7 linked regions of the Homo sapiens genome follow. The protein of the gene in region 1 interacts with the protein of each later gene in a pairwise test. Each region holds a gene or a part of one and is shown on either strand. Other genes may lie near its edges.

The links.
Region 2: the proteins of QKI (region 1) and TNRC6A interact in a two-hybrid assay, tested with the Homo sapiens proteins (one large-scale study listed by BioGRID).
Region 3: the proteins of QKI (region 1) and RNF138 interact in a two-hybrid assay, tested with the Homo sapiens proteins (one large-scale study listed by BioGRID and IntAct).
Region 4: the proteins of QKI (region 1) and HCLS1 interact in a two-hybrid assay, tested with the Homo sapiens proteins (one large-scale study listed by BioGRID and IntAct).
Region 5: the proteins of QKI (region 1) and ANKHD1 interact in a two-hybrid assay, tested with the Homo sapiens proteins (one large-scale study listed by BioGRID).
Region 6: the proteins of QKI (region 1) and CPSF7 interact in a two-hybrid assay, tested with the Homo sapiens proteins (one large-scale study listed by BioGRID).
Region 7: the proteins of QKI (region 1) and MBNL2 interact in a two-hybrid assay, tested with the Homo sapiens proteins (one large-scale study listed by BioGRID).

What each region holds. Positions count from the first base shown.
Region 1 is NC_000006.12:163,561,218-163,564,717, forward strand, and holds part of QKI (KH domain-containing RNA-binding protein QKI), read left to right. Parts: intron 1-764; coding exon 765-852; intron 853-2,202; coding exon 2,203-2,502; coding exon of another isoform or gene 2,503-2,528; exon of another isoform or gene 2,529-3,449; coding exon of another isoform or gene 3,450-3,493; exon of another isoform or gene 3,494-3,500. UniProt on the Homo sapiens protein: RNA reader protein, which recognizes and binds specific RNAs, thereby regulating RNA metabolic processes, such as pre-mRNA splicing, circular RNA (circRNA) formation, mRNA export, mRNA stability and/or translation.
Region 2 is NC_000016.10:24,788,651-24,792,150, forward strand, and holds part of TNRC6A (trinucleotide repeat-containing gene 6A protein), read left to right. Parts: intron 1-581; coding exon 582-3,167; intron 3,168-3,500.
Region 3 is NC_000018.10:32,112,374-32,115,873, reverse strand, and holds part of RNF138 (E3 ubiquitin-protein ligase RNF138), read right to left. Parts: intron 2,130-3,500; coding exon 2,014-2,129; intron 1-2,013. UniProt on the Homo sapiens protein: E3 ubiquitin-protein ligase involved in DNA damage response by promoting DNA resection and homologous recombination.
Region 4 is NC_000003.12:121,654,404-121,657,903, reverse strand, and holds part of HCLS1 (hematopoietic lineage cell-specific protein), read left to right. Parts: intron 1-551; coding exon 552-625; intron 626-3,500. UniProt on the Homo sapiens protein: Substrate of the antigen receptor-coupled tyrosine kinase. Plays a role in antigen receptor signaling for both clonal expansion and deletion in lymphoid cells. May also be involved in the regulation of gene expression.
Region 5 is NC_000005.10:140,537,833-140,540,349, reverse strand, and holds the end of ANKHD1 (ankyrin repeat and KH domain-containing protein 1), read right to left. Parts: intron 2,265-2,517; coding exon 2,089-2,264; intron 1,432-2,088; coding exon 1,267-1,431; intron 992-1,266; coding exon 932-991; 3' UTR 501-931; downstream 1-500. Other genes in the region: ANKHD1-EIF4EBP3 protein, read right to left, coding at 1,267-1,431, 2,089-2,264. UniProt on the Homo sapiens protein: May play a role as a scaffolding protein that may be associated with the abnormal phenotype of leukemia cells. Isoform 2 may possess an antiapoptotic effect and protect cells during normal cell survival through its regulation of caspases.
Region 6 is NC_000011.10:61,409,476-61,412,975, reverse strand, and holds part of CPSF7 (cleavage and polyadenylation specificity factor subunit 7), read left to right. Parts: intron 1-1,038; coding exon 1,039-1,207; intron 1,208-1,870; coding exon 1,871-2,033; 3' UTR 2,034-2,038; exon of another isoform or gene 2,039-2,395; intron 2,396-3,500.
Region 7 is NC_000013.11:97,225,333-97,228,832, forward strand, and holds part of MBNL2 (muscleblind-like protein 2), read left to right. Parts: intron 1-3,500. UniProt on the Homo sapiens protein: Mediates pre-mRNA alternative splicing regulation. Acts either as activator or repressor of splicing on specific pre-mRNA targets. Inhibits cardiac troponin-T (TNNT2) pre-mRNA exon inclusion but induces insulin receptor (IR) pre-mRNA exon inclusion in muscle.

The sequences.
Region 1 (3,500 bases):
TTGTATGTTTAAAATTATTTGTGTGCACATGTGCACGCGCGTGTGTGTATGTGTGTGTTTAACGAACACATTTGAGTTTTGGAATATTCAGCAAAATGATAGTTGCTGGCTGGGTGCAGTGGCTCACACTTGTAAACTTAGCACTTTGGGAGGCTGAAGCAGGAGGATCACTTGAAGCCAGGAGTTTGAGACCAGCCTGGGCTACAAAACGAGACCTTGTCTCTACAAAAAATAAAAAAAATTAGCCAGGCATGGTGGCGCGTGCCTCTAGTCGCAGCTACTTCGGAGGCTGAGGTAGGAGGATGGCTCGAACCTAGGAATTCAAGGTGGCTGTGAGCTAGGATCATGCCACAGCACTCCAGCCTGGGTAACAGAGCAAGACCCTGTATCTAAAAACAATAAAATTAATTAAAGTAATTTTAAAATGATAGATGCTGAAGAGAATATGTTATGTTTAGTCTTATCTCACATTTTCATTCATTTCTATTTAAAAGTAAAGCTTTTTAGGGGAACTTTAATAAATCGGTGTAACTGACAAAAAATTTACAAATACAATATGCTGTATATCAACATGCCTTTACTGAGAAAACAGAGAAAGCAGGCTCCATTATGTTAGCACCTTTTGGTTCTTGATCTTTTTTTCCCCTTATTAAAACAGGTGACTGTAGTCACATGATACTTACTTTAAGGCTTGTGTGTAGATATAGCTATTATATTTGTGGACAGTCTCAAATGCTTTCATCTCATGTGTTTTCCATGTATAGGCAGAAGGAGAAGACAGCCTGAAGAAGATGCAGCTGATGGAGCTTGCGATTCTGAATGGCACCTACAGAGATGCCAACATTAAATCACGTAAGAATGAGCTCTGAGGCCCAGGGTTACTGCTGTCTGCGTTGTTTTGTCTACAGACTTTTTTCCTTTTGGCAACACAATAATAGTTCATACAAAGTGAACAGTTGAAATAACTGTTCTGTCACTTGATATGGGGCTGACAGTCCTATTTTTAATGCTTTCATGAATTGAGGACACTCTTGATTTTATTTTATGTCAGCATGTTGAAGTTTTAGGTTGATAAACTTACATTATTTTAACAAAATCACAATCTCTAAATTCAAGTGTTTAAGAAATTTTCTGTTTGGTTAACTACAGATGTAGGGCTTGCAGCTTATCTTGTTAAATTTATGCAAAAGACAACATATTGAAAGCTTATTTTGAAAAAGTGAATTTGAAGTGTATCTGACTGAAATGACCCTCTGTTGAGTTCTGTCCTTTCACTTTGCTTGCATGTTTTCCCTCTAGTATTTTTCCCTGTTGATTTCATATGTGAGTTCACAGAGATCAGTGGGTGATAACTCTTTTTCCGTCCTATTTTTGTTTTTATGCGTATCTATGCATGTTTTTATAAGCCGTAAGAGGATAGCTTTTTTATGTTTAAAATGAAATAATGTGAAATTTATATTTTGAAACAATTTAAGATTCATACATGTCATTTATATGAACATACCATGTTTAAATTACTGATTATTTAAAACACATAGAATTTTTAAGTTCTAGCCAGATTTAGAAGATGTAGGCAACCTCTAGTGGGTTTAGAAGTAGTTACTTTACAAATTGTTGACATTAATTTACTCATGAAAATGTGAGTATATCATTAATAGGAATTTAGAAGTAGGGCTTTTTAAGATTTTCTGTGACGTTGGTTCCTAAAGATGCAGGAAATGTACATATATACCTAGTGGTTACTTGACTAAATGCAATAAAAATTATTCTTTCTTTACTTTGAAACTAAAGCTGTACTTTAGAAATATACCAAAACTGAGTTTCTGTGGACTCCGGTTACAAATTATTTTTTAACATCTGTTAATGCAAGTGTTTCATTGTGCTTCTGCATGTACTTTAGTCTTATGAAATCTTAGATATATCAAATGTATGAACTAAATATAACCTATTTAATGGTGTCATTCATTTTTTTACAATGGCTTTTTAATTTTTGCACATTCTTAATCACATTGGGAAAGGGAAAGCTGTTTGCATTTGATTGGTGTGCTTTTGCATTTTTGTGTGATCAGCGCATGTACTAATGATTTCCTTTTATTTTTCTTCTTTCCTGCTTTTCCTTTCTTTTTCCTACTCCCTTCTCATTTTTCCGTATTTTATACTGCTGTCTCTATACTTCTTTCTAAATTTCTTTGCTTACTGTAGCAGCCCTTGCCTTTTCTCTTGCAGCAACAGCCCAGGCTGCTCCAAGGATCATTACTGGGCCTGCGCCGGTTCTCCCACCAGCTGCCCTGCGTACTCCTACGCCAGCTGGCCCTACCATAATGCCTTTGATCAGACAAATACAGACCGCTGTCATGCCAAACGGAACTCCTCACCCAACTGCTGCAATAGTTCCTCCAGGGCCCGAAGCTGGTTTAATCTATACACCCTATGAGTACCCCTACACATTGGCACCAGCTACATCAATCCTTGAGTATCCTATTGAACCTAGTGGTGTATTAGGTAAGTTCTTCTCCCCATGGGGTTAACAACATTCTCTTTATAAATATTTTTGCTCCCTCAGATTTTGAAATGATTTTATCAGTTTTAGAGAGGCAAGACAAGTTTGCATTAGGGAAGACCGAAAACTAAATTTTGTTTTATTTCAGCCTCTCATAAGGGTTCCCCTTTGAAATAATTGCACCTTAAATTTATTCAGATCCACTTTGGTAACTGAGGTTCAGTTTGGTTGGGTAAATCTGTTGTGTACATTTCAACAAATACTTTTACATTTGACATTACTGAGGTCATTCTGAGTTTTAGGTCCCACCCCATTGGCCCGTCACCTCCATCAGCTCCACTTCTCAAACTTTATTTGAGATTTATTTTATCTCACAGGTTTGTGTAATTGTTGGAAAATTTTTAAACTTCTAAGTGAAAGTAGTCTGAGCGCTTTATAAAATTCATATTATTGTGTGTGTTTTGTAATATTTGCGATCACTTAAAATATCAGATAAATACAGTCATGCATCGCTTAACAACGGGGATACAGTCTAAGAATTGCCTTGTCTGGCAGTTTCATCATTTGGTGTACATCATAGAGTGTACTTACACAGACATAGATGATATCGTTTACTACACACCTAGGCTGTGTGGTATAGCCATTATAATCTTATGGGACCACATAGTATAAGTGGTCCGTTGTTGACCAAAATGTTGTTATGCAGGCATGACTGTAGTTGTATTCTTAAGATTTTTCAGTTCTTGTGTTTTGGAGTCCTAGTCATATTAAACATGAGAGATACTCTTAATTTCAGTAGTACAGTATGGAATAGTTAAATAAATAGCAAATCACTGAATTCAGAATCTCACTTAAGGCAGAAATTAAAATCATAATATAAACGCTTGGTTTTACATGAACAAAAAGTGGTGTGCTCGAAAAAGACATTACTGATGCCTTTTTTTTATAGAGTGGATTGAAATGCCAGTCATGCCTGATATTTCAGCCCATTGACTTGCTG
Region 2 (3,500 bases), on another chromosome or scaffold:
TTTTTTTTTTTTTTTTGAGACGGAGTCTCGCTCTGTCACCCAGGCTGGAGTGCAGTGGCACTATCTCCGCTCACTGCAAGCTCCGCCTCCCGGGTTCATGCCATTCTCCTGCCTCAGCCTCCCGAGTAGCTGGGACTACAGGCGCCCACCACCATGCCCGGCTAATTTTTTGTATTTTTGGTAGAGATGGGGTTTCACCATGTTAGCCAGGATGTTCTTGATCTCCTGACCTCGTGATCCACCCACCTCGGCCTTCCAGAGTGCTGGGATTACAAGCGTGAGCCACCACGCCCGGCCCAAAATTCTTTTATTTACCGATATGTTAACAATGTATTCATTCAGCAAGTATTTATCAAGGGGCTGTTATGTCCTCTAGGATCTTAGGATAGTATCAGTTGAACATAGAAAGTTGGTGGCTAGAAGATAACCAGTGCCCTTGTCACCATTCTGCCAAGGATCATAGCTTGTTAAATTGAGGAGCCACATATATTTATAACATATTCGTCATTTTTCTTAGATTTTAGTATCATTTTGAAATGGCCTAACACTTTATAAATAGTTGTACTTCTCCTTTATCCTAGATATAAACCACAGTACTTCAGGATCCCATTATGAAAATTCCCAGCGGGGACCTGTGTCTTCTACAAGTGATTCTAGCACAAACTGTAAGAATGCTGTTGTAAGTGACTTGTCGGAAAAAGAAGCATGGCCCTCAGCCCCTGGCAGTGATCCGGAGTTGGCTTCAGAATGTATGGATGCTGATTCTGCCTCCAGTTCTGAATCAGAGAGAAACATCACTATCATGGCTTCAGGGAACACAGGTGGTGAAAAAGATGGCCTTCGGAATAGCACTGGACTTGGTTCCCAAAACAAGTTTGTAGTTGGTAGCAGCAGCAATAATGTGGGCCATGGAAGTAGTACTGGGCCATGGGGTTTTTCCCATGGAGCCATAATAAGCACATGTCAGGTCTCTGTGGATGCTCCTGAAAGCAAATCTGAAAGTAGCAACAATAGAATGAATGCTTGGGGCACTGTAAGTTCTTCATCAAATGGAGGGTTAAATCCAAGCACTTTGAATTCAGCTAGCAACCATGGTGCCTGGCCAGTATTAGAGAACAATGGACTTGCCCTAAAAGGGCCTGTAGGGAGTGGTAGTTCTGGCATTAATATTCAGTGCAGTACTATAGGCCAGATGCCTAACAATCAGAGTATTAACTCTAAAGTGAGTGGTGGTTCTACCCATGGTACCTGGGGAAGCCTTCAGGAAACTTGTGAATCTGAAGTAAGTGGTACACAGAAGGTTTCATTCAGTGGTCAACCTCAAAATATTACCACTGAAATGACTGGACCAAATAACACTACTAACTTTATGACCTCTAGTTTACCAAACTCCGGTTCAGTGCAGAATAATGAGCTGCCTAGTAGTAACACAGGGGCCTGGCGTGTGAGCACAATGAATCATCCTCAGATGCAGGCTCCATCAGGTATGAATGGCACTTCCCTTTCTCACCTTAGCAATGGAGAGTCAAAAAGTGGAGGCTCTTATGGTACTACATGGGGTGCCTATGGTTCTAATTACTCTGGAGACAAATGTTCAGGCCCTAATGGCCAAGCTAATGGTGACACTGTGAATGCAACTCTAATGCAGCCTGGCGTAAATGGTCCTATGGGCACTAACTTTCAAGTTAACACAAACAAAGGAGGTGGTGTGTGGGAATCTGGTGCAGCAAACTCCCAGAGTACATCATGGGGAAGTGGAAATGGCGCAAATTCTGGAGGAAGTCGAAGAGGATGGGGAACCCCTGCACAAAACACTGGCACTAATTTACCCAGCGTTGAGTGGAACAAACTGCCTAGCAATCAGCATTCCAATGATAGTGCAAATGGCAATGGTAAGACGTTTACAAATGGATGGAAATCTACTGAGGAAGAGGATCAGGGTTCTGCCACATCTCAGACAAATGAGCAAAGCAGTGTGTGGGCCAAAACAGGAGGTACAGTGGAGAGCGATGGTAGTACAGAAAGCACTGGACGCCTTGAGGAAAAAGGAACTGGGGAAAGTCAGAGTAGAGACAGAAGAAAAATTGATCAGCACACATTACTCCAAAGCATTGTAAACAGAACTGACTTAGATCCACGTGTCCTGTCCAACTCTGGTTGGGGACAGACTCCTATTAAGCAGAATACTGCCTGGGATACAGAAACATCACCTAGAGGGGAACGAAAGACTGACAATGGGACAGAGGCCTGGGGAAGCTCTGCAACACAGACTTTTAACTCAGGGGCATGTATAGATAAGACTAGCCCTAATGGTAATGATACCTCATCTGTATCAGGGTGGGGCGATCCCAAACCTGCTCTGAGGTGGGGAGATTCCAAAGGCTCAAACTGCCAGGGGGGGTGGGAAGATGATTCTGCTGCTACAGGAATGGTCAAGAGCAATCAGTGGGGGAATTGCAAAGAGGAGAAGGCTGCATGGAATGACTCGCAAAAGAATAAACAGGGATGGGGTGATGGACAAAAATCAAGCCAAGGGTGGTCTGTTTCTGCCAGTGATAACTGGGGAGAAACTTCAAGGAATAACCATTGGGGTGAGGCCAATAAGAAATCCAGCTCAGGAGGTAGTGACAGTGACAGGTCCGTTTCCGGTTGGAACGAACTTGGTAAAACTAGTTCTTTCACTTGGGGAAACAACATAAATCCAAATAATTCATCAGGATGGGATGAATCTTCTAAACCTACTCCTTCCCAGGGATGGGGAGACCCTCCAAAGTCTAATCAGTCTCTAGGTTGGGGAGATTCGTCAAAGCCAGTCAGCTCTCCAGACTGGAACAAGCAACAAGACATTGTTGGATCTTGGGGAATCCCACCAGCTACAGGCAAACCTCCTGGTACAGGCTGGCTGGGGGGACCTATACCAGCCCCAGCAAAAGAAGAAGAACCCACAGGCTGGGAGGAACCATCCCCAGAATCTATACGTCGCAAAATGGAGATTGATGATGGAACTTCAGCTTGGGGAGATCCAAGCAAATACAACTACAAAAATGTGAACATGTGGAACAAAAACGTCCCAAATGGCAACAGCCGTTCAGACCAGCAAGCACAGGTACATCAGCTGCTAACGCCTGCAAGTGCCATCTCAAACAAAGAGGCAAGCAGTGGCTCTGGTAAGTTTCTATTTTATGAAATCAAGCCTTGTTTTAACTTACTGTTATTATAAGATTTGTATAACAAAGTACTTGGATATGCACACAAAGGCTGTTCTTACTGTAATCCAGAAGCAGCTTGAAAAAAATTATAGGGGTGATGTTTACCACCAGAGAACAGAACTCCACTTTTGGCAGTGTTGTTTGAGTCCTGCACACTTCATTCTCTATTAGAAATGCAAGAGAAGGCGAATTGGACAAAGGCGGTCAAGTGGGAATGCTGTACACTTCTCCAAGTTGTTTTTGAGTTAGGCCTTAACTTGTGGTTTTATTATTTGACTAAAATATCTCCAG
Region 3 (3,500 bases), on another chromosome or scaffold:
CATGTGATGCAACGATGGATAACCAAGAAAGAGGCTATAAAAAGAGAGGAAAGGGCCAGATCAGAAAGGGCTTTGGAATAAGGAAGTGTGTGTGTGCGTGCGTGCGTGTGTGTGCGTGTGTGTGTGTTTTAGACGGAGTCTGACTCTGTCGCCCAGGCTAGAGTGCAGTGATGTGCTCTCGGCTCACTGCAACCTCCGTTTCCTAGGGTCAAGTGATTCTCCTGCCTAAGCCTCCCAAGTAGCTGGGACTATAGGCACGCGCCACCACGTCCAGCTAATTTTTGTATTTTTAGTAGAGACAAGGTTTCACCATGATGGCCAGGCTGGTCTTGAACTCCTGACCTCAAGTGATCTGCCCACCTTGGCCTCCCAAAATGCTGGGATTACAGGTGTGAGCCACCGCGCCCAGCCAGAATTTTGTCTTTTATACTTCATTAATATTACTTTGGCGATAGAATGTAAAACAGATTAGAGGATAACTACCAGCTAAAAAGGCTATTATCATAGTTCGAGTGAGAGATGATGAGGGCCTGAGCTAGGGAAGTGACAAGATAAAATAAAAGTACAGATGAGGAATATTGCTATTAGGAATCAAGTGTCTATGACCAAGTGGATCTAAGAAATAAGGGGGAGGAAGGCCTGTCTCCTGATAAGAAAATTTGGTCATTAAAAGCGTGATTACAATCATGTATACTAAGAACTTTACTAAAAGCTGGAGATATGCTCAACAAGACAAACACCATCCCCTCACTTAAGAACAATCTATTGGGTAAAAAAGCAGATAGGAAATTACAATAAAGTAGAAGTACAACAATAAGAAAAACATAGAAATGAAGAAACCCAGAAGGACTAAAAAAAAACTATAAGAGCAACAACTTTCAAACAAATTTCCTTGACACTAACAAGTCAAGTAAAATGAGAACCTGAAGTTTTTTCAGACTAGGCAATCAGAAAATTACTGCAGATCTTTACCAGACAATCACTAAAGGTTTTTACCAGAAATTTCAACTGAGTAGGGAAGACGCCTAATGTAGTATGATCAACATGAAGTGCTTAAGGGCGGTTAAGTTACTAAAAATTAGCAATATGTAAAATGAAAGGCTACTAAAATAAAATATTAGAGACTGCTTAACATACTGTCTCCTGGGAACCTTTCTATAATAGTGGCAATATTGTCTTTCCTTACAGTTACGTATGTGCTTACTACTGAAGTTTTCAAAATTAACAATGCATTGTTTAGGGATACATGCATGGGTGATGATACATAAAGAAAATCAAAGGAATGAATAATCCAAATAAGAGAATAGTGGTTGCATCTAGGAGTGTACGGTTCAAATGGGCAGGAGCTCACATAGAGATCCTGAAGTTTTGAAAAATGTTCTTTCTTGACCTGGGTTAATAGGTAACTGGATGTTAATCATTATTTTTTTAAACCACAAGTGCATTTTGGCCATTTTTCTGTGTAAAATACATTTCATAAAAATGTTTAATGTACATGAATCTGAGATAAGATACAAATCAATCCAAATCTAGTTGTTTAAAAGAAATGAGACTCAAACAGAACTGCACTGCACCTGGTTTCATTTTTACATGACATTTTAGAATAAAAATTTCAAACTCTAAGTCTATCCCTTAGATAGCAAAGAAAAAACAGGTTGTAGTTTGCAAATACATTACTGAAAAGGATTTTCTATAGTTTTTCAAATCATTTCAGTTGCAAAATCAGTAAGAGAAAAATCTCCAACTTATTTTTTACTCAAAAAAATGAAAATTCTTAGAATGATTTTAAATAACATAAGCTGAAGTTCATGAAGTCATCTCCCAGATGAGAGCTTACGTGTGCCAAACAGATTTTAAGGCAAATGCTGTAGTTCTGATACTTGGCAATTCACTTTAAAAACACATGTGCACATACACACACACACATCCCCCCAAATACCTTATCATATAGTTCCCAAAACAATTTCCATTTCAATTATGAAAATTCTGTATTTAGGAATAAGTATTGCTTACCTGTTCCCTACTGAATCTTGAGAGATCTGAAAGTTTGGAATGATAGAAGAAACACCATATTCATCCTGATACTTCTTACAAGATTTGTAATGATGTCTCATGCGATAGAATTTAATCTGTAAATTATTAAAATGTGACTTTTAATTTAAAATAGAACTCGTAAGATTTGAAATAGTGTAAAGAGAGGAAAAAATAAAAGTAACTAAATACTCCATTTAAACAGGAGTTGTATTTTTTTAAAGTAAATGATTTCATCCTTAAGTAGGAGTTAAGAATAGATAATACATTTCTGTTCATTAAATGTAGAGATGGAGAAGAGTCCATCTGTCTATAAATTCACTGCAAAAAACAGCAAATAACTTCACACTTGAAAAGACACTACCAGCAGTAGACAAAAAAATTAAAAGCACTAAGAGGATGCCAGATGCTATTGGGCATGTCTTATTATTTAACTTCTGCAGCCTGGCAGAGTTAGAAAGCACTTAAAAAAAAATTAAGTTCCTGGCTGGGTGCAGTGGCTCGCGCTTGTAATCCCAGCCTTTTGGGAGGCTGGGATGGGTGGACTGCTTGAGTTCAGGGGTTCAAGACCAGCCTGAGCAATATGGCAAAATCCTGTTTATACAAAAAATACAAAAATTAGCCAGGTGTAATCTCAGCTACCTGTGGGGCTGAGGCAGGAGGATTGCTTAGAGCCTGGGAAGTCAAAGCTGCAGTGAGCCGAGATTGTGCCACTGTACTCCAGCCTGGGTGACAAAGTGAGACCCTGTCTCAAAAAAAATTAAGTTGCCAGGAATACTTGGAACATTTTTCAGTTTCTCACTGAGAGGAATAGCCAGAATCTCTCGAGTGTGTTTTCCAGCTTCACGTCATTGCCCTGTCAGTTAAACACTTCCTTCAAAAAGATGTAAAAGCAGATCTGACTTGTGTGAATGCATGAAATAGCAACCAGCTTTGCTCACTGAATTCATTAGCTATTAGAAAAAATGTCGGTGATAAATCTATAGACACATGGATATACTCAAAGCCTAACCACCCCTCTCTATTTTATTCCTTCTCCAAATGATAGAATAAAATCCAGATTAGAGAATTAATGCTGGTTATTTGTTAACACCTGATTTTCCTACATGTTCCTTAAAATTAACCAAATATTTTGTGATTTCTTTCTTCTTCTTTTTTTTTAGACAGCGTTTCGCTCTTGTTGCCCAGTTTGGAGTGCAATGGCGCAATCTCAGCTCACCGCAACCTCTGCCGCCCAGGTTCAAACAATTCTGCCTCAGCCTCCCAAGTAGCTGGGATTATAGGCATGCGCCACCACACCTGGCTGATTTTTTATTTTTAGTAGAGACGGGGTTTCACCATGTTGGTCAGGCTGGTCTCGAACTCCTGACCTCAGGTCATCCACCCACCTTGGCCTCCCATAAGTGCTGGGATTACAGGCATGAGCCACCATGCCCGGCCCTTGTGATTTCTTAAATACATACATAAAT
Region 4 (3,500 bases), on another chromosome or scaffold:
GCATGAAGTAGGCAGAGGAGGAACGGAGGTTTCAGAGCTCACTAGTTTAATTCTTTGTGTTTTCTTGTTTGTTTTTTGAGACAGAGTCTCACTCTGTCACCCAGGCTGGAGTACGGTGGTGCAATCTCAGCTCACTGCAACCTCTGCCTCCCAGGTTCAAGCGATTCTCCTACCTCAGCCTCCCAAGTAGTCCCTGCAGTTGGGACTACAGGTGCATGCCACCACACCTGGCTAATTTTTGTATTTTTTTGGTAGAGATGGGGTTTCACCATGTTGGCCAAGCTAGTCTTGAGCTCCTGACCTAAAGAGATCCACCCGCCTCGGCCTCCTAAAATGCTAGGATTACAGGCATAAGCCACCACGCCTGGCCTCACCAGTTTAATTCTTACATGGGGTCAGGATGGGATAAATATAGAGGGGATGTGAATAAAGACCCAGACTGAAGAAGGCAGTGGACACAGGGGACATGGAGGGCATGTGTCAGTTGGGTGGCCCTTCTCAATGTGGCACATTTCTTGCCGTCATGTATTACTGCGTGCTGTCGTTTGCAGAATGACATCTCTGAAAAGGAGCAACGATGGGGAGCCAAGACCATCGAGGGGTCTGGACGCACAGAACACATCAAGTAGGTGCCGAAAGGACTGGAGAAAAGGAAGGGGGTTATGGGAAGAGCCCAAAGAAAACTCGGAGACTTGGGGGAAGGTGAGGGAGGAAAAGGATAGGGTAGTTCATGTCTATGTATTATTGTGTTTGTTTTTTTTCTAGAGTCTGTTCCTGTGTGTACCTGTGTGTCATTGCATATTTCCATTTTATGTCTCTCCTCTTACCCTCCTCAACCCTATTATCTATCTTTTATACCTAACAACTCTGCTATTTCCCCAAGTGGGTCTATTGGATTAACTGCCTCCCTTCCTTTAGTAAGGCATGAGAGATTCATAGAGGAAGTGGACCAAATACTAAGGTCCTCTCTATCTATCTACCTGGCAATCATCTATCTCCTATCTATCTCTTCAGATAAATGTAAATATGTATTTAGAATTCAGGGTGACTTCCTTCAGATGAACTAAGAACAATTCAGTAAAATGTCAAGGTGAAGAACTCAGAATAAATGCTATAAAAAGAGGCCACTTCAGCTCCCATAACTGGCCCAAATAACTTTTAAAATACAGATTTGTACTTAGCTATTTGACAGAAGTTGGAAGCCATGAATGGTAATATGAAGAAATGTAACACTTGGAAAACCTGTTGATAAAAACTATTTTGGCAACGATGTTCAGGGATCTTTAAGATTATAGCCCCATATGCATTTTACCAGAAACAAACAAACAAACAAAACCCTCCGATACCAGAAGATAAAAGGAACTTACAGACATATCCAGGGGTTTCTGTGGGATATGTCATACATTCAGGCTGAGAGATCCCCTTCTCTCTTCCACGGATGATTCAGGATCATCTAACCAGGACCATCTGCTTTGGATAGTATCAGAATGTCAAACATTAGTAGCAAGGTAGACACAATAAATAGTGTAACAAGCAAAAATTCAACAACTACACACAAAATGGCAAGATTAATACAGTTTTAAGCTCCATTTTTAACTCCCCCTACCGCACCCTAAAAGCAGTGTTTTTACCTCTAGATTTTAAAAAGTGTCAGTGGATGACCACATTGCACAAGCAACATACTGTGAAAGCCTGGCACAAGTTTCTACAACTGGATGACAATACCACATTGTTTAATCAGAAATAAATGGTTTCGGCCGGGCGTGGTGGCTCACGCTTGTAATCCCAAAACTTTGGAAGGCCGAGCGAGGAAGATCACTTGAGGTCAGGAGTTCAAGACCAGCATGGGCAACATGATGAAACCCTGTGTCTACTAAAAATACAAAAATTAGATGGGCGTGGTGGCGGGCACCTGTAATCCCAGCTACTCAGGAGGCCGAAGCACGAGAGTCTCTTGAACCCAGGAGGCACAGGTTGCAGTGAGCTGAGATCGCACCACTGCACTCCAGCCAGGGTGATAGAGCGAGACTCAGTCTCAATAAATAAATAAATAAATAAATAAATAAATAAATAAATAAATGGTTTCAATTAAGTAGCTATAATGAATATTATTCTTAAACCATGCCATTCTGGAAAAAGATTGAAACAATGGAACAGGGTCATTCAGGAAGCTTCTGTGATACCCCTCTATAGACTCATAGATCAAAAAAAAAAAAAAAAAAACCACAAGACCCTTTTCCTTTTCTGAATAAAGGCCACTCAACGCTGGTATTCTGGGAATTGTCCAGATGAGGATGCACACTTCATGCCTTTGGTGGTATTGTAGCCAATGAGGTTTATCCGAGGTGTGATTATTGCTAATTGAAAACTTCCCAACACTCCGCCATGACGACTTGCAATATAGTAGGCATTGGCAAAAAAAAAAAAAAAAAAAAAAAAAAGAGCAAGCAACCCTCATAAAAAAATGAAATAACTTAAAAAAAAATAGCCACCCTGAAGATGTATAGTTACAGGTCAATGGGATAGCCAATGTCTAATGCAGTACTTAGCACTTCTGAGCAGCTCAGTGATGTTAGTTTTGTTTCCTGTTAATATAGGTTAGTTTAATCAGATTTCCTTTCTAAAATCTAACAAACATGTAAACAGACAACAGCCCTTTTTTCTCCTAAGTGGTGTCTACCTGGACTGTTGGATTGCACAACTCCTATACACAGATCACTCTGACGGGTGCTGCCTGGAGTGGTACAACATGGTGACCCTGCACATTTCCTTGTTAACCTAACTGAATCTATCAGATAGAATAAACGATGGAGATATTGACAAAAAAATCTCGCTCATCTCCCATTTACCCAGGTTATCAAGGAGTGAAAGCCTGGTATCTGCTGGTAACAGGCCAGGTGGCTTTAGACAAGTCCCTTTTCCTCTCTGATTCTCATTTTGCCCATCTGGATCAAAAAGACCTCTAGAGGACTTTCCAGTAGTAAGTCTCCACTATTTGGGGATTCCCTCTCGTTAGTGTGGGCTAAGTCAGTCTTTAACATCTGATGGGAATCACCATGGTCCTTGGAAAGGAGAGGGAAATTGGAGAGGAGAACAGTAGCTGTAGATGCTAACACTGACAGATCCCAAAATGAAAAAACAAAAAACAAACAAACAAAACAAAACAGTAGCTGTAGAGCTGAGACGACTAAAAGCAGGAAAAGGAAGTGGTTGCAGTTCTTACTAATCTTACTACCTTCCCCACACCGTGATGTCTCTTTTTAGGTCTGTCTTGAATAAATTTAGTTTGGATAGTAATTTGGTAATTCAGTGAATAATTCAAATGGTCCTATGCATCCCTTATCCATTCTGTAAAGGAACTGCCTGGTTTTCAAGAACTATCACCCTTCTCTCCACCTTCTTTTCTCCACTCTTGCCCATTCATTCTCAAGACTCAAGGGTGTCTTTTCCCTTGACCTGTTTGTTTATTTTCAAATCTGTCACAGACTGATACTTTTGTA
Region 5 (2,517 bases), on another chromosome or scaffold:
TACAACAGAATGACAGGAGTCACCTCCTTATGTCCCAACTCATATAAAGCTTAAAATATCTATAACCAGACAAATCTTTCAGATAAAAAAGGTCAGGAAGCACAGAAGGAACCTGAAGTTGATAATTTGGGTGTCCCTACATTTGTTTAGTGTCATCTGATTTAAATCCAATTGTTCTTATTGACATTCTCATGATCCATAGAGAAAAAACCTATCAGTGGCCTATCTGCTAGCTAAAGTCAGATAAGACACATTGCCAGAGCTTGAAACTTTCTCATATGTTAAAGGATTATGGAAGACAACAAGGGAACAAGGAATGTTTAACACAGAATAAATAGGTAAATAGTCTTAAAAGTGCTTTTTTAAGGCAGTCTAAGAAGGGACTCAAGTGTTAAATGTGAGAAGCCTGTTACAAATATAGTATTAACCATCTGGTTCAATATAATGTGGATTGAGTGGTACCTGCATGACCACTGAAAGGATCACACCCCACTTCTAAAGACTGTTCATCTTTTTATTGAATATTCTGGTAAATATTTCACATTAATACAGGCTACATTACGTAGAGCCACTATATGACAAGAAATTTACTCAACTTTTTCCTTTTAAGTATGTAAACAATTATACATGTATTTATCACCCTAAAAGGTTGAAACATGTAATCAACTAATTCTCTTCTGCATACAAGTAGTATTCTGTATGTTTAGCCAAAAGCACTAAGGTCATATGATCTTAAGTTCAAAATGGCTAAACTAACCAGAGAACATAATCAGGTGGATAGGAAATCAATTTGTTCTTATACAATGGGCAATCAAATTTCCATTGCTAAAGCCTCAGAGAAAATTTCTTAGGCACATTAAAAAAAAATCCCCATGGTTCTTCCAAGGTCATAGGTTTCTTAAACAAGGCTAAAGAGTAAAGACCTTCTAACTTAGTTGACATATTTGAGATGCATGTTTCCAATATGAGGTGCCCACGTGCCAGGCCAAATCTGAAAAGGGGGAGGAAAAATTGGAATTTCTAATTAGGAATCTTTAGACAGTTACAAAATGAATATATAAATGCAATGGCAATTCACTGTTTCTGCCTAGGAAGAATACACATATATTAAATAAAGTGTTCAGTAGCATCATCTTGATATTGAAAAAGCAATCCAGATCGAAATGGTCAATTATGACTTTTGATATTCAGTACTTATACTTCTCACAAAACAAAAAGAATGATGTGACAAATCTAAAAAACAAAAGAGCATTAAGCCCATTTTACCTGCTGGGCATCAGTGCATTCAGTTGAATTTTGGATAACTTTTATCATAGGGTTCCAAGCAGGATCTGGATTGTGAAGTCCATTAAACAGAGGGCCTCCTGGAACATCAGCAAGCTGAGGATGAGAGGGTATTATGGTGCCTCCATACATGGAAATTGGCAGACCCTAAAACAGCAGGAAAAAAGATTTAATCTTAAAATTACTATAAATTATAAAATTACTATAAATCCCATAATACCAGCTTAGACTTCTCTAATATTCCTCATTTAAAGAACTCCAAAAGATCCTATAAGTACAGTATGGCAGTGTTGAGAAAACAAAATGTTTATCTGCATCTGCAAAGCTTTTCAACAAAAAACAAGAGAGAGAAAGAAACTAAATCCAATATGAAATCATCAGGAAATTTCTCATATTTGATAAAAATAACCTCAACTTTCCCATATTTTAGTTTCATGAATAAGCTTGAGCTAAGAAGAAAATGGGAACTCTACATAATTGATTGCCGACATAAAGCTGTCAGAGCAGACAAGAAAGCATCAGTGAACTCATGGCCAGCTTTTAAGAGGGGTAGAGGCCTCCCTCAAAGCTGTAGTAGCAGAGCACAAAGTGGCAAAACCCAAATCCCTCAGGTGTTTTCGGGGGATGGGGACATCTTCAGGACAAACTACTGTGGACAACTCTGTGCACTCCTGAAATTAAGCAAAAGATCTAGCAAAGCCACAGAAACAAAAGGGAGCATTATTTCAATACAAGGTATTCCTTAATGTGACTACATTGGCTGACAAAGTGTCAATCAAGTTACAGTGATGTTTGTCAACTCACTTTAGAAAAATCCACAAAACCACTTGCCATAGGCTGATGAAAAATGTTAGAGGGGGCTACCATTCCAGAATCATCTCTCTCCATTGGCTGATGTTGGGAGAATGTGCTTGGGTCTGATAATTGTTGATGCATTGGATGGTTCCCCATCACAGATTGCGACCAACCTGATAAGCCTTCTGGAAAGAATAATTGAAAACAAAGTTTTAAATTTATTTGGATAAAACAACAAAACATTACCATTGTTATTACCAAACATGACCAAATGTTACTGAAATCTTTCCTCTGAAGAGCTCAAAGCGTATTTATCACAGTCTTGCTAGCCAAAAAAAACCAGTTCCTGAAAAACTAGGTAAAGTCCTCTGAATACTCCACTTTACCCTGTCTTTTAAAAGATTAAGTACTCTCTGAAAGAACTCAAATGATTATTTA
Region 6 (3,500 bases), on another chromosome or scaffold:
TCAAAAACAAAATAGTCCTCTATACAAGGACCATCAACCAATAAGACCACCTTTTATAGTTTATATTCCTCCAGAATTTTTTCTATGCATATGACAATTTATATAATTTTTATTGTTTTTACAAAAACAGGATATGGTTTTGAAACTTGCTTGTTTCAATTAGTATATTCTGGACACCTATTATATCAACATATAACATAACATTTATTGATCCTTACTGTGTGCCTGGCACTGTGCTAAGGGCTTTACATGGATTACTTTGTTTACATACAGGTTTACCTCCTGCTTTTTTAATTGTTAATAGTACATTAATAATGTAATATTCTGTAGAACCAATGTTCCTTTATATAGCCAGACCCTATTGAAGATAATATAACAAACAACACTGGCCGGGCGCAGTGGCTCATGCCTGTAATCCCAGCACTTTGGGAGGCCAAGGCGGGCGGATCACAGGGTCAGGAGATCAAGACCATCCTGGCTAACACGGTGAAACTCCGTCTCTATTAATAATACAAAACATTAGCTGGGTGTGGTGGCAGGCGCCTGTAGTCCCAGCTACTCAGGAGGCTGAGGCAGGAGGATGGCGTGAACCTGGGAGGCGGAGCTTGCAGTGAGCCGAGATCACGGCCACTGCACTCCAGCCTGGGCAACAGAGTGAGACTGTCTCAAAAAAAAAAAAAATGAAAAAAAATAAACACTAAAACACTGTTAAACATACACACTTGTGAACAGAAGTAGAAAATTTTTAATAGAATTGCTGGCTCAAAAAATATGCACATTGTTTATTTTAATAGATGTCAAATAGCCCCTGGACAACAGTGTGTCAGTTTGTTCATCTGACAACATCTGTTAAATTCCGAACTGCTGGAATATAGGTGTCATCCAGTTTTACACTTGCAACATCTGCCTTGTCTCTTTTACCGCGGTTGTTTGGGACGGCTAGCTACTCTTGGTTTGTGTCTGCCTGAGTTCTCCTTTTGGTCCAGTTAGTTTACCATCTCTCCTCACCCTTGGCCTTTCTCCTTCATCCTTTATCAGGGGATTACAGTGACGCAATTGAGACGCTGCTCACAGCCATTGCGGTTATCAAACAGTCCCGGGTTGCCAATGATGAGCGTTGCCGTGTCCTCATCTCCTCTCTTAAGGACTGTCTTCATGGCATCGAAGCCAAGTCCTACAGTGTGGGTGCCAGTGGGAGCTCTTCCAGGTGAGTTGGTGATTGTGTCCTCACCTACCAGCCCCAAGCAGCACTCTTCCAGGGATAGGGAGTGGGGACAAATGGAGCCCAGGGAATCTGGGAAAGACCTGGCCGAAAGTCTGGACGTTAGCCTTCATGTCTTTTTGGGGAAGAAACTAATCAGATGCTTTCATTAATAAGTGTTGTAACATCTGGAATCTGGTGGGTGAGGCAGTGGGCTCATGTAGGAAAAAATACAGACAGATATTTTTAAGAACATGGGTTTTGGAGCCCTACAAGCTTGGATTGGAATCCCAGTTCTGCTGCTAACTATCTGTATGACCTTCTTGTGTATGGAAGTTAGTCAACTTTCCAAGCCTTATTTTTCTCATTTTCTAAAAAAGGGACACTGATAGTATTTATCTTACAGACCTGTTGTAAAGATTAGGTCAGATAATCCATACAAAATTATTAGCACTACACCTGATAAATTAGTTCTCAACAGATAAATTTACCTGTTAATCATCTTCCCAAAAAAGAGTAGTCCTCAAAGAGCTAAAATCCTCAGACAGCAGGCCCATGATAGAGTAATAGAGGAATAGTTTAGGCAAATATCAGAAGACACCAAAACACCACATTCTTGGAAAGAAAGTGGTAGGCCTTCTGAGTGAGGCTGAAGGATCTTTCTAATAGGAAAAGACATCGCTCCCGGGAAAGGTCACCTAGCCGGTCCCGGGAGAGCAGCAGGAGGCACCGGGATCTGCTTCATAATGAAGATCGGCATGATGATTATTTCCAAGAAAGGAACCGGGAGCATGAGAGACACCGGGATAGAGAACGGGACCGGCACCACTGAGAAAGGTGGGGAGAAGCCCCGTTCCTGGCTGCTGGGGGATTTTTTATTAAAAAAAGATTTATAGTGAAGAATTCTCTCTCTTTAAAGCAAAAGTAAATGCAGCAAGGGTAGGGGGAACTTCTGATTTACATAACTGGAATTTCAGGGCAGATTTTCTGCACATTTATGGGGAGTCTTACCCTGAGATTCAGCTGTTTCTGCTTGTTTCTTGACTGCCTTAACCTGGTATCTGAGTGAGAGTATGGTGTCTGCATTCAGGTACCAATTTGAATCCCAGTTTCTCCACTAATAATTGGCCATATTACTTTCTGTTCCACAGTTTCATTTGTAAATGAAGATAATAAAAGCAACTGTCCCAGTGACTTGCTAAGTTTTAGTGAGAGAGTCCATGTAGACCATTTAGCACTCATGGTACCTGTCACATAGTAAGTTCTCAATAATTAATAGCCATTGTTATTATCATTATGAACTTTCAATTTAAATTAGGAAAATTGACTAAGAATAGTAAAGCCATTGCCACTTAGTTTTCAAGCTGCAACATTAATGATTTTAAGAATTAGGCTTGGCATGATGGCTCACACCTATGATCCCAGCACTTTGGGAGGCCAAGATGGGAGGATTGTTTGAGCCAGGAGTTCGAGACCAGCCTGGGCAACATAGGGAGACCCTGTCTCTACAAAAAATACAAAAATTAGCCAAGTGTGGTGGTCCCAGCTACTTAGGAGGTGGAGGTGGGAGGGTTGCTTGAGCCTAGGAGGTCGAGGCTGCAGTGATCTGTGATTGCACCACTGCACTCTGGCCTGAGCGACAGTGAGACCTTGTCTGAAAAAAGGTAGGGAGGAGGGGCGGGTGGGTGCCTCATGCCTGTAATCCCATCACTTCAGTAATTTGGGAGGCAGAGGCTAGAGGATCACTTAAGCAGGAGTTTGAGACCAGCCTGAGCAACATAGTGAAACCCTATCTTTTTTTTTTTGAGACAGAGCCTCACTTTGCCGCCCACGCTGGAGTATAGTGGCATGATCTCAGCTCACTGCAACCCCCACTTCCCGGGTTCAAGCTATTCTGCCTCAGCCTCCCCAGCAGCTGGGGCTACAGGCGCGCGTCACCACGCCCGCTAATTTTTCTGTTTTTAGTAGAGGCGGGGCTTTACCATACTGGCCAGGTTGGCCTTGAACTCCTGACTTCGTGATCAGCCCACCTTGGCCTCCCAAAGTGCTAGGATTACAGGCGTGAGCCACCATGCCTGGCCGAGACCCCATCTCTTTAAAAAAAAAAAAACGGTTTATTTAAAAGATTTTGAAAATTAATATGCTTTAGTCAGAGAGGAGAAAGCTGATCTGAAAAATTATCTTTAACAGGTTTAGAGGCTTTGTGGTGGATAATTAACTTCAACGGAAGGGTTTTTTGCTTTTGGAAAAGACTTAGTGACAAGGTTGTTTATTTTGTTGTTGTGTTTTTTGTTTTGTT
Region 7 (3,500 bases), on another chromosome or scaffold:
AACAAGAAAAAGATGAAAAGGAAGGTATACTGATTTGTTTACATTTCCAAAATGACAAAACAGATTATCAACATAGAAATAGGTTGGCAACATTGCAAGGGGTGAAGGATTCTGATTCGGGAAAAGGTGGATAACTACAAGACATGTTGGTTGTTGAAAACATAGTTTTGGGGGCCTTTACCATCTTCAGGTACAGCTACATGTCAGAGCTGGCTGGGTTGTGCCAAGCAGAGAAACCTGGCAACTCTAGGGGGCAGGTGGGCAGTGGAGATAAAGGGGGTTATAAAAAGGTAGGGAGGTGTGGGCATAAAAATCAACAAGCAAGAAAGCCCAGAGAGAGCTGCAGGTCAAGAGTCAGGCCAGGCAAGCACAGATCCCTGGGGCATGGCAGAACAGGAGAGGACAGTTCGCCCTGTTCACGAAATCTGCTCAAGACCCAAGCTAAAGGCCTAGCAAAGAAAGGCAGGAAATAGCTGCAAAGAGAAGTAAAGGTGTCATGGGCCCAGGCATCCTTTCCGGAAGGGTCGACTCAACTGGATGAGCATGGATGTCCACTGCTGGGGAGAGCAAAGAGCTTGATATTTTAATGCTTTGGTTTCTCTCAGAAGAATGAGGCAGGAAGACTTAACCGGGCTTTGTAAATTAGTTAACATACTATTTTTTTTTCTCCAGTTTTATACTCTTCTCAGTTTTTTTTTTCTTTTAAAAAATGTGCACAAACTATTTGTTGCAGCCGTGATAATATTCGTAGTAAAGAGCCAAAGGTGCTGCGTGGCTGGGTCTGCATCAGGCCTGGGCCTCCGACTGCACGGCTCCAACTACACAGTTGTTTATGGAGACCAGTCCCGGCCTCCTCTGCTGAGAGTAAAAACAGGTGTGAAAGGTAAGGCCTAAGGGTTTCTTTTGTAAACCTGAGCTCTGAGGCTGATGGACGAGTTTTGGGCTGGCCTGCCCTCCTCAATACAGCAGAAACGCTTGGTAATAAAAGTGGACTCAATAATTTACCTTAGTGTTTTGACAAAGAATGCATTGTCTGAATTATACTAGGTAGTATATTCCATCAATCAGTCAACAAGTGTTTATTAAACACCTCTGGGCTTCCCTGGCTTTTGCTATTTGGTGAGAAACCCAACTCAGTAACCTAATACCTGCCTTTGTGTGTGTGTACAAAAATAAATGATGCAAAATTGTAAGTTTCAAAGACTTGAATAACTTTATTGGCTAATATTAATTTAGCATTGTTAACCATCAGATTAATTTTAGGCTTGGGGCAGTTTTAGTGATTGGGGGAGAACAAGAGATGGACTTTTGAGTTTTAGGTATCTGTATGTATGTACTTTCTTGACCTCTGTTATATTTCTCCAGATAAGTACTGTTTAAATAACATATAAAGATGTCAGATGAGCAATAGATAGATAAGAATGGTGCAAAAAAAAATCAAAATATGAAGCTACTGAGAGCAATTTCTGAGTCTCAGCATACTGAGTTTTGGCCCCAAAGTGCCTGGGGAAAATGGACATATCATCTAAAAAGCTGTAAATACCAGCCAACAACAGGAAGTCTTAGACTCCTGTCCCACACTTCTGAGCTGCAGGGTGTGGGGGAAGCCCCATGCCTTTATCTCACTGTCTCTATCTCTAGCAAGGAAACCTGTTTCCTGACTCTGCAGAATTTCGCTTTCCCCCTTTTTCCTTAAAAGCAGAGTTACAAAAAAAAAAAACAAAAAAAAAATCAAAAAAAAAAAATATATTTCCTTTTGAAACACTAAGTTTTGGGTTTATTTGTTGGTTTTACCCTAACATCACAGTTAGTGTGTATTCTCTGGGCACAGACAAGCTGCGAGGTTCAGGGACGCAGCCTGGGGGAGAGCTGAGAGAGGAGGCTGAGGATGTAGCCATGTTTATAGAACTCTTTTCAGGCATGGGTCTTGGCAGACAGATGGGCAGGTCCAAGGTTTATGGGCATTGACTGCAAGCTGGTTGCTGTAGAAGAGCTCCAGGGTGGTACATGACCTCAGAGGAAAAAGGGAGGAGTCAAGAACACTGAAAATGCTGCGGCCGTTTGCAATCCACAATAGCAAGGAAACAAGATATTTACAAATGAGATAAGGATGGTTAAGCACTCAAATGTCTTCAGAAGGAGAATTAACATATGTGTAGTTTCTTACACTTTACAAAGGGCGTTCACAGGCATTATCTTAATTAGCAGTTCAAATAGAAAGTTAAAAAGTGGGAGTCTAAACTTAGGGCACTCTGGCAAGGATGTGCTGGGTAAAGCTGCTGGAGGAGATGCATTATAAACTGGATTTTTAAAACTTGGAGTTATTGATTTTTTTCCAGCAGCTAATTGACTTGAATTTTGAAGGACAGGAAAAACTTAGAACTGTCCCTGGGGGTGCACATGCTTGTCCCCAAATGCCTTCATGGGCAGCGTGTGCATTTAGACTAGACTTTGGGACCATTGGTAGCCTAGATGCCAAGGAAGAGCAAGAAGACAGGTTGATTTGCTTTGCTTTTTCAGCTCTGACTGCTAGGCATTCAAGCACAAAACCTGTGCTGGCTCTGCACCCCAAATGGTCACACAGAAGTAAGGTGCTTCTAGAACAGAAAATCCATGCGTAATTATGAATGGTCTGCAGATCTGGGAAAAACCAAAGTCTACAAGGAGACCAAAATTCAAAGCATTCAATTTTCCCATGAGAGCATCTCATTGAGTTCTCCTAAGCCTGTTACAGGGAGTTGGGGGGGAAATGAATATTTCAAGGGCATGTGTTAGAAACTGGCTGTTTTACATACATATCTCATATAATTTGAACCTAAGAAGAGCAGGAGAGCCCCACAAAGTTAATACTATCCCCAGCTGGCCAGTAGAAGAGAAGCTCTGAAAAGCTCTGACAGCCATGATCCCACAGCTAATACTTGGCTGAGCAAGTATTTAAACTCAGGCCCATAAGACCCCCAAGCTGTATAGGTAGGTGACATTATGTTTTTCAGCTGAACGAATGAAATTGAGGACATAAAAATAATTCATTTGCAGAAAAAAAAGCTCAAGGTGGAGGTAGGAGATTAATTATTTTAAAACTCTCAGATGTACTTTATATAGTTTACATTATAATATGCAAATACTGAGTGTACTAGTGATAGTAACATATATATATCTTACATGTATATATAATTTCAGTTTTTATATTTATTATCTTTTTTTTTTTTTTTTTGAGACAGAGTCGCACTCTGTTGCCCAAGCTGGAGTGCGGTGGCACTATCTCAGCTCACTGCCAACCTCTGCCTCCCAGGTTCAAGCGATTCTCCTGCCTCAGCCTCCCAAGTAGCTGGGATCACAGGCGTGTGTCACCACACCTGGCTAATTTTTGTATTTTTAGTAGAGACAGGGTTTCACCATATTGGCCAGGGTAGTCTCGAACTCCTGACCTCAGGTAATCCACCCGCCTCAGCCTCCCAGAGTGCTGGGATTACAGGTGTGAGCCACTGTTCCTGGCCTAT